Regions from separate parts of the Homo sapiens genome. Here region 1 is linked to region 2. The links come from fine-mapping of genetic effects on gene expression. A gene starts in region 2. The other region holds a variant in brackets. All regions are shown on one strand. Distances are between the middles of the regions.

Region 1 (5,380 bases), 220 kb before region 2:
AAATGATAAGTGTTTATTGTCCCAAATTCCAACAATACAGTAGTCTGGCTAATATAAAAATTATCTCATATTTAACAACAGATGCAATCACTGCTAATCTTTTATGACAAATTAATATAAAAGAAATTATTTAAATGTTGTTTTCATTCAGCAGTGTGCCAATAACCTTTTATCACCTCAAGAAGTGCATGTCAACTTTAAGGGCTATGTGGGTATGCTTAGTTTCCTTTTCAAAAAAAATAAATTTAAAGTGCTGGTCTACTGGAAATAATTATCTCTTTTTTGTCAGAAAATATATTATTTTTTTCTTTTGAAGCACGTTTGCTGGGTATTATAGAATTTTAAACAGGAATTAATTTCTTTTTCATACTTCAAAGGTGTCATTTCATTTCCTCTAGCTTCTCTTGTTTTTGTTGAGAAAGAAGTTGTCAATTTTACTATCATTTTCTTTTTAACTTCTGGTTCCTTTTAAAGTTTTTTTTTTTTAATTTTTATTTTTAAGTTCCAGAGTACATCTGCAGGATGTGCAGGTTTGTTACATTGGTAAACGTGTGCCATGGTGGTTTGCTGCACCTATCAACCCATCACCTAGGTATTAAGCCCAGCATCCATTAGCTATTTTTTCTTGATGCTCTCCCTCCCACCATGGCCCCCACCCCTTGCCGGGCCCCAGTGTGTGCTGTTCCCCTCCATGTGTTCTCATAGTTCAGTTCCCACTTATAAGTGAGAATATGTGGTGTTTGCTTTTCTGTTCCTGCCTTATTTTGCTGAGGATAATGGCTTCCAGCTTCATCCATGTCCCTGCAAAGGACATAGTCTTGCTCCTTTTTATGGCTGCATAGTATTCCATGGTGTATCTCTACCACATTTCCTTTATCAAGTCTATCATTGATGGGCATTTGGGTTGATCTATGTGTTTACAATTGTGAATAGTGCTGCAATTAATATACACATGCATGTATTATTGTAATAGAATAATTTGCATTCCTTTGGGTATATACCCAGTAATAGGATTGCTAAGTCAAATGGTATTTCTGGTTCTAGACCTTTGAGGAATCACCACACCGTCTTCCACAATGGTTGAATGAATTTACATTCCCACCAACAGTGAAAAAGTGTTCCTATTTCTCTGCAACCTCGACATCATCTGACTTTTTAATGATCACCATTCTGACTGGCCTGAGATGGTATCTCATTGTGGTTTTGATTTGCATTTCTCTGGGGATCAGTGATGATGAGCCTTTCTTCATCTGCTTGTTGGCCACATGAATGTCTTCTTTTGAGAAGTATCTGTTCGTGTCCTTTGCCCACATTTAATGTTTTTTTTTTTCTTGTAAATTTGTTTTAGTTCCTTGTAGATTCTGGATATTAGACCTTTGTCAGACAGATAGATTGCAAAAATTGTCTCCCACTTTGTAACTTGCCTGTTCACTCTGATGATAGTTGTTTTTGCTGTGCAGAAGCTCTTTAATTAGATCCCATTTGTCAACTTTTGTTTAAGTTTTTATTTAAAATAAAAACAAACTTTATTTTAGGTTCAGGGGTACATGTGCAGGTTTGTTATATAGGTAAACTTGTGTTATGGGGGCTTGTTATACAGGTTATTTCTTTACCCAGGTATTAATCCTAATACTCAATAGTTATTTTTTCTGATCCTCTCCCTCCTCCCACCCTTCACCCTCAGGTAGGTCTCAATATTGAGTCTTGATAGCCTTCTAAAACGAACATATTAAAGCTATTTTTAAACTCTGCAATTCAGATTCCCTGTAATGAGTTTAAATAACCTGATGATGCTTTATTCTGGAGCTGAGCTAACCATATGAATAACTACAAAGAATTTTAAGGTTAGCACTTCTTTTTCTCTTTCTCTTGCTGATAAGGAGGATGAGGATGTCTGAAGATGACATATTCCAAGCATTAGGCTAGTCACTCTACCCATGTCCCCTCCATAATTCCACAATTACTCCTTGACATGAGGATCACATCCACCAAAGCCTGAAGAACCAGGAGAGCTGGGAGAACCAGGAGAACTGGGAGAACCAGGAGAACCAGGCAGCCTCCCTTCAACGATACTGTCGTGTTACTTTTCCACTGCACTTACCAGAGCCACAAAGACTGTCTGACCTTTCCTGAAATGGCACCGAATCATGCCCCATGCTCTGTGTCTCCTTCCAGGAAGAGTTTAGAGTCCACTCAACAAGCTACAGCCACACAATGGGAGAAAAACCCTGAGGATAACTGCACAGAAAGGGTAGGAGGACAGTTTCTCCCTGCTGAACTGTGCTGGCTTGGGGGACAGGGTGTTGCAGACAAATGGAATTGTACAATCCTCTTGTAAAATTAATTTTAAAAAGACTCTGTAGGAAAATATTAAATAATATGGAAAGAAATGGAGCAGCATTAATTCAAAGATAGCACAAATAAATATGCTTTCCATAAGCAGGAAAGGTGAGTCAGAAAGGTTTGATTCTCCCCAGTAAATCTGGCAATTACAGTCAAAATCCCAACACTGTTTTTTGTAGAACTGGATCAAGAGCTATTGAAATTCACAAGAAAAAACAAAGAGAGAGGATGGAAAAAATAGAGTGAGTTAGGAGGTGGCAAGAGGGCAAGGCCTACAGATGACACAAATTGATTATAAATACCTAGTAATTACATAGTGTGATATTGCCATTGATATTGACCAA[T/C]AGAATACAACAGAGGTCTCAGCAGCACACGCCTGCGCTCATGGTGCTGGTTACTTGTGAGCCGTGGCAGTGCAGATTACCCAGAAATAGTGTTGAGACAACTGGTTACCCATAAAAATGCACCTGGAACTCTACCTTTCACAGCTTTAATAAAAGCAGATCTCATGGGATTTAGAGATCTAATGTGAAAAGCAAACGTTAACAATATTTAGAGGAAAATATAAGGAAGTGTCTTTATGAACTTAAGATAAGAAAGATTTCTTGAACAAAATCCTAAAACCACAAAACCACAGAAGATAGCACAAACAAAATGAAAAAGCCAAGTTATAAGCTGTAGGAAGAGATTTTTAACCCATTACCACCAAAATATTATTACCAAGTGTATATTAAACATTTCAATGGATTTGTAAGAAAAAAGATCACCTTAACAGTAAATGTGCCAAAGAGATAAACAGCATTTCACAGAAGAGGAAAAACCAAAGGAAAATACAAATAGAAACAGTAAACAAAACTCATTAGTAATGATGGAAATGAAATAGAGCCCCAGAGAGAGAACCATTTTACAGCTACTGTACTTCAAATATTAAGTCAAAAATTACCTAGCACTGGAGAGGCTGTGGCTCAACTGGAATTTCCCAGAGCTGTGTGAATATAAACTGCACAGCCACTTTTGTAGAAAACTTGCTGTTATTTTGAAAATAGAACATCCTGGTATAATCTAGCACTCAGAAATTCTACCTTATGGAATAGCCAAGAGACATTTATAAGTATCTTTATGGCTGCACCTCTTTTAATGATGATAAACTAGAAAAACAAACATAAAACAAAGGCAAAGTGTCCACAGGCAACTGACAATGGATAAACTGTAGTGAAATATCATACAGCAAAAAACCTCACAGAAACAAACAGTAAGTAAACATGCAAATCTCAGAAGACTATGGAAGAATAATATTTTATAAGCCTTGCAATAAAATGAAATTTTACATATATATATATATATATATGGATAAAACTTTTTTTCAATCAAGAAAATGACAAACACAAAATTCAGGATGCCTTATATCTCTGGGCAGGCCAGAAAATGGAGTATGGAAGACTGCACAGATGGAAAGCTAGGGACAATATTCTAATTATTGCTTAGAACTGCAATTTCATGGGCATTTGTTTTATTATTTTGCTTCATAACTGACACAGAGTCTAAATGCAATTTTTAATTTCAGGAGCTCAATTAAATGGTTAGAAATGGAGTAGTCAGACATCTTAAACATAGATTGTACAAACATGAATATTTTTCTCTAGGTTCTCCCTGTGTATGAAGTATCCAGTCATTTTGATGATTTGACTGGAATGATTTATAATAAAACATTTTTTCAAACTGCTTACAGGATTCTACATTTCTCGTGCACTAATGCCTCTGTGGATGATGAATTCCCCAAGGGGCGCAGCTCACAGGTCACCCTGCGGGAGTTGGAGCCCAGGCTTCTGAGAGAGGAGGGCGTGAGCCCTGTGTCCCAGGGAGCTGCAGGTTCTCTCAGAGCCCAGGCTTCTGAGGAAGGAGAGTGTGAGCCCCATGCCCCAGGGAGCTACAGGTTCTCTCAGAGCCCAGGCTTCTGAGGGAGGAGGGCGGGAGCCCCATGTCCCAGGGAGCTGCAGGTTCTCCTTTTTGCTCAAGTCTGGTTTTCTTGGGAGGGTGGATATTTAGAATGTGATTAAAACTCACTGCATTATACAGTGTTCATACCTCCTTAGGTGTTTTCTGTTAAGAAATTCATGGGAGTCTCACAGAAGTTTCCTAAAAATAACCTGCAGTCCTTCCTACAGTCACGGTGATATGTAAGTCAGAGGCAGGACTCAAAGAATTCTTGCCTGCTCACTGAGATGCTGTGAATTATGAACTTAAAATATCCTATAATGCAATCAGGATGTGTCCCACGTGGGAGTAAATGTCAACAGAACAGCACCTTCAATCTGTGTTCTAAGTATTTCCTCTGAAACTAACACAATTATCTTCACTGGGCAGTACAGCATCTTTTTAATTCTGTCTAGAGATTATCTCTGGGCTACTGATATTTCTGTTAAAATAAAATTTAACAAAAATCTATATGCTTACTGTGGTACTGGAGTTTCCGTTCAGATGCAAACCGCTGTCAAAGAGGGGAGAGGAGGCCCCACTGCTGTGGTCGCTGGATGGCCCTGGGGACCCTGCAGCAAAACAAGAGAAGTCCCTTCCAATTGGTGCCACTGACAAAGCACACTGTGACCATGCAGTGACTTCAGTTCTACCTGTGCATGGGAAGTTACCAGCACCAAAATGCCTGGTGTCCAGTTATGGGCTGGGTCATCCCCAATGGCCTCTCACTTTCCTGCTGTGATATGGTCTCCTCACCAAGATCTGACCTCAGGTTGAAGGGAGGGACCACTGCCGGCTCCTGTGAGGGCTCCCCAGGGTGGAGGGACAGCATCAGGAAGGTGTGCCCCCAGCAGCTCAGGCCCTCCCTGTCAACATGACCCCCTGGAATGGTCAGCACAAGGCGCCTTCTGTGATTGCAGTGTTCTCTTTTGAAAGGAGATGATCATACCAGGCCACTCAAAAGGTTTTTTCCAGAGACAATATTGAAAAGCTCACACTCAAAGCACTTAGCACATTACAGGTAAAACAGGTGCTCATAAAATAATTTCCCTGGAAATACAGG
Region 2 (5,380 bases):
CCACAGGTGAGAAGCCAGAGCCAGAGAGGATGGTGGTTCCCGAAGCCGGGGTTCTCTGAGTTCCCTGGAACCCTGATCTCCCTCCTTCCTTCTCCATTTCCACGAGCACCTGCCTGTGTCCGCCCCATGCCCAGCAGCGCAGGAGCTAGGGGTGCGCAGCAGAGCCTGAGAGCAGCTCCTCTTTGGGGTCCCTCGTGTGCCTGCTGTCACATGCTACATGAGCTAACAGGAAAGCCAGAAAATCACACTGCTTAGTAAGTCTATCCTGAATATACCCATTTAGTAAATAGGAGGCCTGCGATGCAAACACACCCTCTGTCACCGAGAACTGCAATGCCAGCCCCTCTGCCAACTCACTCAGAGCCTCATGGGGTATCTTGAGAAGCAGATCTAAATTAAAACTGAAGCTTAAATGCCTTGTCTACAGTCATCATCCATAAAGATATCCAGAGACAAGAAGCTGTTGCTCCACATACACCATTCAGAAAACAAGGCAATTTTAACATCCCATGTTGGAAAAAAACAAAAACAAAAACAAGGCACACTTTTCTTAATTGGACCTCATTCAAATATTTACTGGGGAACATGTCTCCATGTCTCCTGGTAAAGTCAGGTAACTGCCTGCTTTGTAATGCATGGATTTTGCTTATGATGTCATAGACGTCAATAGAAATTCTACAGTTGAAATTAAAGATGAGTCAGCAAGGATGAGAAACATAACCAAAGCATAGAAGGAATGGGGAACCTTCTTAGGAGCTCAGATGCTTCATTCATCTCATGCAGCAATTCACATCTGTAAACAGATGATTAGGTGGTGCCCTTACCCCACATGCACCTTTAAAATGACCTAACGTGCTTTCCCCCTTCAGTGGGCAAGCTCATCACATAAATGGGCATGTTCCCGGCTCATGCCAATAATTCTTCCAGCGCCCCAGACTGAAGAAGTGTTGTCATTTAAAAGCAGCAAATGTGCTGTAAACATCAACCAATAGTAGTCTTTGAAGCTACAAGCAAGACACACTTCGCACATTGTACTGAGGTTGTCTGCCAGTGGGATTTTACCCCTCAAATCCAGGTATGGTCAGAGACAGAGCTCCATGAACTCACTTAACTTAGAAAAAAACATCGGGAACAGGCACTTGAAAGGGGAAACAAAACAGGTCTGTTACCGAACAGGAGACCTTCAAACGTGGCCAAATTCCATGATTCAAACAAGCAGTCATGATAAAGAATGTGTATAGTTTTGACTTCAGATAGAAAAAATATAACTAGAAATATAAGATTTAGAAAAGACTTTCATCTTTTTCTAGTTAAAAGCACCAAGTTCTCTTAACTGAAATGATTAAATAATTACACAAGTTGAATAATATTGTGCAGTTATGGTAAGAAAATAATTCTGCCATTAAGTAAGGATGACATTGTATACTAAGAACATTCATGTTTTCAAGACAAACCTGCCAACACCAATACTTAACAGATTCGTTTTAAATACATAAGAATCTGAGCTAACATGACCATGCACTGGTGTCTAAGGTAGGCTTAGCACATACCTAATTACTTATGACTGCAAAGTTAGGAGTCTTGCTCTTAAAATGCTCCATCTTATTGTAATACTTGGCCTCCAACGCTAAAAAAAAAGTTTCTTTCAATACAATTCAGACAGGCTGTTTCAAATAATCAAGGTCCTTATTAGAAAGAAAGCGCCAATCACATCTTGTAGCAAACAGGTGAGCAGAGGCCACTCTTGACTGGAAAACATCAAATTTAGCACCTTAATTAATACTGAGCGCAAAGGAGAGCATTTACTAGAATACGCGCAGTTGCTTTATTTGTTGACGTTATTGCCAATAACTCATCAAGTGGGTCAATCATGAAGTATGATGAATCCACTTCAACGCTTCCGCTATAATTACAATGATTAAAAGCAAGAATTGCTTTGCTCGAATGTCTGGAGAAAAATGCACAATCCCTAACCGTGGGAGGGCATCATTATAAAGCTGAAGGCAGTGACCAGACGGAAAGCCTGTGATTCCACAGCGCCTGCAGTTTTTACTGCGGTTTATTTCCAGGTAATCCCCGCATATTTTCTCGGGTTTGATTACCATGGGCAACAGTGGGATAGCTATTCATATTACAAAGTACTTCAAGAAACGAACACCCACATTTTACATGAAATTTAATTTTCATATTTTGTAGTAAAAGCCCAGAAAGGTGCTACTTGAATGAAGATGCACCTGTCTCTACATAGAAATCTTTTTAACATCACAGTAGCGACGACCACAGTCCTAGTTTAGAATCATTATTATGACGATAGGAATTTGTAGCAGCCCTCAACCCGTGGCCTTCTGAACCGTCTCTCCACTGTCCTATAAGGGAGGGCTAACTGTATTCCTGGTCGCTCCTGGGACTGGGAGCTCCTGGGGAAGGAATCCTAAAGGAGTGGTTGTCAATGCATTTTCATTAACAGCCGCGCTTCTCGGCAGCCTCCTAGGGCTGGGGTGGCCACGTGCTCCCTTAAACTGTTTTCACAACTCGAGGCTGTGCTGTGGGTGGCAACTTGAAGGTTTCCAAGAACTTTTCGTTTTTCTTTGGGCCAACATTTCTGTTTTCTGTCAATCAATAGTTTAGTTATTTAAAAATAAGAAGGTGAAGAGGGAGTTATTTAGGGTGGGAACCAGAATAGACTTCAAAAAAGAAATCCGTATTACCCAGTTGGCGTCCCAGCGGTTCCCCGAATGGCCTAGAGCCCCCAGCACCTGCCGAGGCCGCGCCATGCACCTGGCTGGGCTCAAACTGGCCAACTCAGACCTGGCCTGGGCGCCCGAAGGCTGCAGGGGGGACGCTCCGGTCCGAGCCACCGCCTGGGCCCGAAAGAGCCGCTCCTGGGAAGCAATGCCGGGCCAATCTCAAATCCCAAATTCTGGAAAGCACTACTTCCCACGCAGTAAAGGGAAGCCCGGGCGCCTCAAAACCAAACCTTGGAAGACGCTGGAGGAGCAAAGCCTGCAAGTTTCCAGTAAGACACTGGGCTGGAGGGAGCAGAGCGGCCAGGGGGCGGGTGCCCACTGCGTCCCGGGGCTCCGGCGCCCACCCTCCGGCCAGCCGTCCCCGGAGACAGGGAAGGGGTCGCGGGGAGCGAGGGGGCGTGGAGGGAGGAGGGGCGGGGGGAGAAGGGCGCGAAGGAGAGGGAAGGGGGGCCGGAGGTGAAGGGGCGCTGAGGGGCCGCACTCACCCGCGCAGGTACCAGCAGGCAGCCCTGGCGTCCGCGGGAGGCGGCCGGGGGCGGGGGTCCCTCGGTGCCCATCGCCGCCCCTGCGGCTGGGTCCGCGCTCCGGGCCGGCCGAGCTCAACGCCAGGACCCCGTCCGAGCCTCCCAGGGCCCCGCCAGGCGCCGCGTCCGCGCCCGCGCCCCTCTGCCGGCTCCGGCTCGGGCTCCACCGGGGCGCAGGGCTGGGGAACCGGAGCTCCGCCCGCCGACCCGGAGCACCGCCCACGCAGACCCGCCCCGGGCGAGGGAGGGGCCGGGCGCGCACCCGCGGGGAGGGCGGCGAGCGGGGATCAGCCGAAGTCGGGAGAGGGGCGCTTCCACGGGGCGGGAAACTGGCGCGCGACTCTGGGGGAAGTGCAGGATGGGGGGACAGGGGCGCTCCCGCGGGGGTGGATGGGGGACCATAGCGGGGCTGGCGGGGCAGGGGCCGGCGCACGAGGCTGGAGGAGGGGAGCGCGCGCTTCTACCCGGGCTGGGTCGCCGAGGTCCGCGGCGCATCGTGGCGGCGGTGGGCGGAGGGGGGCGGGGGGCACCTCTTCTCCCTTGTGGCGCAGGTGGGCGCGCTCTGGACCGGCTTGACGACCCCTCCCCGCCGCCCCACCTCCCTGGCCAAAGGTTCTCAGCTTCTAATCAGGGACATTTCTAGTCCACAGCCTCGAAGCCATGGGTTCTCCCCGGCCCTCTGAAGCCGCCACACCTGTGCCAGCCGGCCGCGTCCTCAGACCTTTCCCCGCGGAGTCTTCCCAGCACTTGGAGACGCAGCGCAGGGCCCCGAGGACGGCCTGGCCCGGAGAAAAGATACCGAAGCTCCAACTTTCCCCAACCCCGCTCCCCTCCTCCTTCCACCCTCCCTTCCCGCCCCCAAAGCTCGGGGGTCCTATCCCTCCTCCGGTCCGCGGAGTCTCCCGAACCCTGCGGGGACCCGGCGCTCGGCGGTGCCCTCCTGGGGCGCACGGGGCTGGGGCGGGAGCGAGGAGACCAGGTGGGGAGGGGACCCCAGATCTCAGACGCCAGGGGAGACGGCGTTTCCCGCTGTTCATTCAGGTTTGTGCCAAAAGGAGCCTCACAGATGCAGTATTGGGTTTGGTAGACTCAAATCGTCTTGTTTTAATGTAAATGAAAGTAAGTTTAGGATAAATTCCAGTGCGGCGGGGGCAGGCAAGGCTACCCACATTTTTTAAAAAGAAGCCAGCCCGTATTTTTCTCCCTTTCCAAATCCTCCGCCCCCCAGTCCTTCGACCCAGGCACGAGCGCCCATCGCGGAGGCCACGATGCCCGTTTTATTCCCTCTCCACGGCAAGGAAAAGCAGCGAAATCTGAGGTCTTCAGAGGTTAACCCTATCTAGGAGCAGAATGTGACGCATTGTAAACAAATAAATATTGAAAACTCGATGTTAAACACTTTACTTTTTCTGACTCCGACTTGCTTGACCCCTGAGCAGACCTGGGTTTCGAACACAGACGCCCTTCCCCATTTCTCTATTCTCTGTATTCCTGTTTCACCTTCACGGCAGTCTGCCAGCACTTCTTAGCACTCAGTTTAACCAGAGGACAAGCTCTTGAATAGCAAAAACCAGGTCTTTTTATACGTGGCACAGTGGCTGTTACAAAATATGCTTCTTGGGTGAATTGGTAAAAAATATTGTATTACTTTTTATTTGTAGCAAAACCTAGAATAAGAAAAAGTACAAGAGATTATTGTTTGCCTTTAAATTGCATTTTTAAAAGAGCGTGCATATAATCTCTGAGAAATTAAATGTCTACAAATAGCACAAAGATATTGTCTCATTACCTTGCAAAGGGACATTCTATTCCAGGGCCTGAAGAAGGAAAAACAGCGTGTTGCATGCATAAATGTTGACTTTGAGAGACAAGTTTTTGTTAAAATTTTATCGTTAAATGAATAGACACATATATTTTTGTTTTTCAGACCAAAGGTAATTGTTAATTCATTTGTAAAATAATGTAGTTTTGGCTAACAATCTCTGGAATCCTTTCTATAATAAAATTTTGTGATTCCAGGACGTCGTAGGCGCTCTGGGGCTGCTTTTGAAAGGCTAATTAATTCAAGTTTTAACTGCCTATCTGCTTTTATGCATCTGTGTCAGGACT

What was found.
Region 1: its variant is fine-mapped to the expression of SNTG2-AS1 in whole blood (TOPMed, PIP 0.95).

Annotation. Positions count from the first base shown.
Region 1 is chr2:1,172,601-1,177,980 of GRCh38, reverse strand. SNTG2 (syntrophin gamma 2) reads right to left here. Exons shown (of 17, transcript NM_018968.4): 8 at 4,798-4,889. Among named protein-coding and RNA genes, the nearest start is that of SNTG2-AS1, 220 kb to the right of the region's middle. The variant T/C (reference allele first, on the strand shown) is at 2,688.
Region 2 is chr2:948,921-954,300 of GRCh38, reverse strand. SNTG2-AS1 (SNTG2 antisense RNA 1) reads left to right here and starts at 2,909. Exons shown (of 3, transcript NR_136151.1): 1 at 2,909-3,016; 2 at 3,915-4,390; 3 at 4,500-4,667. SNTG2 (syntrophin gamma 2) reads right to left here and starts at 3,452. Exons shown (of 17, transcript NM_018968.4): 1 at 3,233-3,452. The coding sequence starts at 3,304. RefSeq lists a silencer at 3,414-3,543.